Regions from separate parts of the Homo sapiens genome. Here region 2 is linked to region 1. A link means that fine-mapping ties the variant in region 1 to the expression of a gene that starts in the linked region. Tissue or cell type: sun-exposed skin. Region 1 holds a variant in brackets; the other region holds the start of a gene. All regions are shown on one strand. Distances are between the middles of the regions.

Region 1 (2,757 bases):
AGACCATCCTGGCCAACATGGTGAAACCCCGTCTCTACTAAAAATGCAAAAATTAGCTGGGCATGGTGGCACGCGCCTGTAGTCCCAGCTACTCGGGAGGCTGAGGCAAGAGAATCATTTGAACCCAGGAGGCAGAGGTTGCATTGAGCCAAGACCACACCACTGCACTCCAGCCTGGCGACAGAGTGAGACTCCGTCTTAAAAAAAAAAAAAAAAAGAATCACTCTAGGCTGAGCGGAGTGGCTCATGTCTGTAATCCCAGCACTTTGGGAGGCCGAGGCGGGTGAATCACCTGAGGTCAGGAGTTCACTACCAGCCTGGCCAACATGATGAAACTCCGTCTCTGCTAAAAATACAAAAAATTAGCCGGGTGTGGTGGTGGGCGCCTGTAATCCTAGCTACTCGGGAGGCTGAGGCAGGAGAATCACTTGAAAAAAAAATTAGAAAACCCGTTTTTTGTTGTTTGTTTTTGTGTTTGTTTTTGTTTTTTGAGATGGAGTGTCACTCCATTCCCCAGGCTGGAATGCAGTGGCGAGATCTCAGCTCACTGCAACCTCCACCTCCCAGGCTCAAGCGATTCTCCTGCCTCAGCCTCCTGAGTAGCTGGGATTACAGGCCCATGCCACCACACCTGGCTAATTTTTGTATTTCTAGTAGATGTTGGCCAGGCTGGTCTTGAAATCCTGACCTCAAGCAATCCACCTGCCTCGGCCTCCCAAAGTGCTAGGATTACAGGCTCGAGCCACCATGCCCAGCGTAGAAAATAATTTTTTAAAAAATTAAAAAGAATCAGTCTGCTGTGTTGAGGAGACTGCAGGGGGCAAGGGCAGAGATACAGAGACATTAGCAGGCTGTGGCAATTATCCTATTCAGGCTAAGGATGGCTTGGAGCAGGGTGATGGAGTGGAGGTGAAGGGAAGTGTTGAATTCTGGACATATTTTAGGGGCAGAGCAGAACTATGTAAATGTTAATGTCAATGCACCAAAACCACAATTCATACAATAAACTGATAAATTGAACTTCATCAAAACGAAAACTCTTGTGCTTCAAAAGACACTAAAGAAAATGAAAAGGCAAGCCACAGAAGGAGAGAAAATATTTTTAAAGCCTACATCTGATAAAGGATCTGTATCCAAATACATAAATAACTTTTACAACTCAATAATAAGAAGACAAACAACCCAATTAATACATTGACAAAAGGTTTGAATAGACATTTCACCAAAGAGGATATATGAATGGTTAATAAGCACATAAAAAGATGCCCAACATCATTAGTCATTAGGGAAATGCTAATTAAAACCACAGTGAAATACTACTTGGCACCCACTAGAATGGTTATAATCAGAAAGATAGACAGTACCAAATGCTGGCAAGAATATGGAGAAATGGGACTCCTCATGTATTGTTGATGGGAATGTAAAATGGTACAGCTACTTTAGAAAATAGTTTGGCAGTTTCTTAAAAAGATAAACACAAATTTACTATACAACCTAGCAATTATTCCACTCCTTGTTATCTACC[C/T]AAGAGAAATGTAAACAGACATTTACACAAAGGCTAGCATGTAAATGTTCATAGCAGCACTATTCCTAATAGCCAAAAAGTGGAAGCAACCCAAACATCAATCAACACTACAGTGGAATACTATTCAATAATAGAAAGGAGGGAAATACTGATGCATGCTACAACATGGGTGACTCTCAAAAAAATTATGCTCAGTGAAAGAAGCCAGACACAAAAGACCACATAGTCTATGGTTCTATTTATATGAAATGTCCAGAAAAGGCAAATCTATATAGACAGAAAATAGATTAATAATTGCCTGGGGCTGGGGGTGGGAATGGAGACTGATTATAACTGGGCACGGGTAATCTTTTTGAGGTGGTAGATTTTATTGAGGTGATGGAAATGTTCCAAAACTGGATTGGGTGATAGTTGCATGCGTTTGTAAATTTATTTAAAAATCATTAAATTATATTATTAAAAAGAACATTGTTAATGATAGCATATATCTAAATGTAAACAATTTTTGTGCATATAAAGCATTTAGCACAGTGTTTGAAATATAACAGCTCAATAAATGTAGTTAACTTTGTTTTGTTTGTTTGTTTTTTGTTTTTTGTTTTTTTTTTTGAGACTGAATTTTGCTCGTCACCCAGGATGGAGTGCAACGGCACGATCTCGGCTCACTGCAACCTCCACTTCCTGGGTTCAAGCAATTCTCCTGCCTCAGCCTCCCGAGTAGCTGGGATTACAGGCGCCTGCCACCATGCCCAGCTAATTATTGCATTTTTAGTAGAGGCAGGGTTTCACCATGTTGGCCATGCTGGTCTCTAACTCCTGACCTCAGGTGATCCACTGGCCTCAGCCTCCCAAAGTGCTGAGATTACAGCAGTGAGCCACTGCACCCAGCTGTAGTTAACTTTTTTTTTTGGGGGGACGGAGTCTCGCTTCGTCACCCAGGCTGGAATGCAGTAGCGCAATCTCAGCTCACTGCAAGCTCCACCTCCCAGGTTCATGCCATTCTCCTGCATCAGCCACCTGAGTCGCTGGGACTACAGGCGCCCACCACCACGCCCGGCTAATTTTTTGTATTTTTAGTAGAGACGGGGTTTCACTGTGTTAGCCAGGATGGTCTCGATCTCCTGACCTCGTGATCCACCCACCTCGGCCTCCCAAAGTGCTGGGATTACAGGCGTGAGCCACGTCACCTGGCCTAGGTGTAGTTAACTTTTTAAGCGAATAATATTGCCATT
Region 2 (2,500 bases), 330 kb after region 1:
AAATGAAAAGACTCGCCTCTTCTTCCCCACATTTGTTGAGAATCTGGTCACAGTGGCATTGTCGAGGGTATTGAAGGTGAACAAAGGAGATGTGGTCCCTGCCCTCAGGGAATGCCTAGTCTAATGGTGGAGGCAGAGCTGTAAGCTAACAAGGTAACCCAGACAAAGTGGGCATCAGTCATGTGTTCTACAAATATGTACTGAGGACACACTCTGTGCCAGGTACTGGAAATACAGCAGTGAGCGACACAAAAGCCATGGTGCTTCCACTCTTCCAGGGGAGTTGGACAAATAAAATACTTAGTATGCCAAATGGTGATCAGTAAGTACCGTGAGAAATGTAAAGCTGGGAAGCAGAGGAGCGTTTAAGTGGGGTGGAATATTAAACAGAATGGTCAGAGAAGGCCTTTTCAAGAAGGTGAGCAAAAACTGAAAGGAAGTTACAGGATGAGCCGCATGTATAGTTAGGAGAAGCAGAGAGAGCAAGTGCAAGGGCAGTGAGGTCGCGGTATGGTTGGCACGTTCAAAGAAATAGCAAGGAGGGCAGTGCAGCCAGAGGAGGGAGTTAGTGGGGGAATATTAGAAGGTGAAGTCAGCTGAGGGGCGTGGGGAGCCTAGCAGGCTATTGTGAGAACTTTGGCTTTTCTCCTGAATGAAATGGGAGCCATCAGGGCATTTCGACAGGGTAGTGACATCTTACTGAAGCTTAATAAGCATCACCAGGACATCGCGGGAGCCCAGCAAACGCGCTTCCCTGCCACTGGGTTAGGGAAGGCTTGCCGGAAGGACGATTTCGGAGGACAGCAGGTGTTAGCCAGGCAGCGGAGCGAGCGCCAACAGGCGCACTGGGGCGGAGAGACGCCGTGAGCAAGGTGAGGCAGAGGGCACGCGCGGCGCCACCCGCCACAGGCTAGGACGCACGGCTGCCAGAGAGGACGCCTTAGGGGCCCGCGAGCAGGCTCGGGAATAAAACAGGGCTGGCAGGGCGAGGTGGAGAGACTCGAGAAGGACCGGCCAGATGTCGAAGTTCCTAGAGAGGAGGGCGCCCAAGCCTCCGCCGAGACGCGTGACTACAACTACCACAATCCCCAGCGCCTGCGGTTCCAGCGTCGCCTTGCTCTAGACGGGCGGCGGCGCTGCGCGGGGAACCGGCGTGGGGTCACGTGGTACCGGCGCATCACGTGGGCGAGTTAGGTGACGCTGCGGGGCGGGCGGACAGACTGCGGGACGGACGGTGGACGCTGGGACGCGTTTGTAGCTCCGGCCCCGCCGTTCCGACCCCCGCCGCCGTCGCCGCCATGACGGGGCTAGCACTGCTCTACTCCGGGGTCTTCGTGGCCTTCTGGGCCTGCGCGCTGGCCGTGGGTGAGGCCGGGTCCTGGCGGGCGGGAGCAGCATCGCGGCCGAGCTGGCCGGGTCGGAACTCGGCGGGGAAGTGGCCTGCGGGGAATACTGGCCCCCCGCGCGCTCTGCACCCGAGGCTCTGGGGACTTGCGCCTGCGAGGGCCTCTGACTCCGACAAAGGAGACCCGGATTTCCAGCTGCTTGAGGAGGGGTGCGGGCGGGTAGGGGCCGCGAGGGCAGCACTCCCCCGTCCTGCCACTATCGCTGTCTCCCCTCGCTCCCACGTCTCACTGCTGTCCCCCCTTTCTTGCTCCTGACCGGCCCGCTCGGTCACAAGCCGGCTGCTCCGGTTCCTCTTTTCCCAGTCGCTTTGCCCTCCCCCACCCACAGCTTGTTGGGTAAACAGCGGAACGGACTGGGCCGGCGGGATCTGGCTGGAGCGCTTGCTCCCTCGGTCCCGCCTCGGATTCGGGCTTGCGGGTGGCGACCCTGCCTGCGCAGGTGCTTGGTCTGGGAGGTGGTTTTAGCGAGGGAATGGCAGAAAATGGAGGCCTAAGCAGAGGAATCTGTCTACACAGCTGTACTGTCACCTGGGGGCAGCCTGAGGACGCCCCTTCAGGGAGGTGGCCCTTCAGCTCGGCAGCTACTTTAGGTTGAAGAACTTCTCTCTACCGAGCAGCCCGTAACCCCCTTTTTCTCCCTCACTGCTGCAGGAGTCTGCTACACCATTTTTGATTTGGGCTTCCGCTTTGATGTGGCATGGTAAGGGAGGGCAGGGGGAGGATTCCCCTTGAAGCTTCTTCCCTGCAGCCTCTCTTCTTTTCTCTGGTCTGAGTCCCTCCCCCACACCACTGCCTGCCTGGGACATGGACCTTTGGGAAATACGCGGTCAGTTGTTGCCTGTAGAACTGGTGGTGGGGTTGAAGGGGGTTTGAGGGGTTAAGATTTTGTGCTCCGCTTCCCTGCTAGAGCTGAACTGCTTTCTTCTCTGCTTCCACAACAGGTTCCTGACGGAGACTTCGCCCTTCATGTGGTCCAACCTGGGCATTGGCCTAGCTATCTCCCTGTCTGTGGTTGGGGCAGCCTGGTGAGTATTGGGGTGGTGGGACTGGGGGCAGGGGCTGAGTCATGGCAGGTGGTGTCACTGGGGTCTTAG

What was found. PIP is the estimated chance that this variant, and not a neighbour inherited with it, causes the effect.
Region 2: it holds the start of ATP6V0B, and the variant in region 1 is fine-mapped to the expression of ATP6V0B in sun-exposed skin (GTEx, PIP above 0.99).

The regions. Positions count from the first base shown.
Region 1 is chr1:43,641,711-43,644,467 of GRCh38, forward strand. No RefSeq gene overlaps it. Among named protein-coding and RNA genes, the nearest start is that of KDM4A, 7.1 kb to the right of the region's middle. The variant C/T (reference allele first, on the strand shown) is at 1,526.
Region 2 is chr1:43,973,743-43,976,242 of GRCh38, forward strand. ATP6V0B (ATPase H+ transporting V0 subunit b) reads left to right here and starts at 1,218. Exons shown (of 8, transcript NM_004047.5): 1 at 1,218-1,365; 2 at 2,058-2,106; 3 at 2,348-2,431. The coding sequence starts at 1,299. It overlaps LOC124904167 (a long non-coding RNA gene), which reads right to left and starts at 1,123. Exons shown (of 2, transcript XR_007066053.1): 1 at 701-1,123; 2 at 1-145. RefSeq lists enhancers at 371-1,204, 787-906, 957-1,006, 1,205-2,037 and silencers at 1,257-1,306, 1,707-1,756.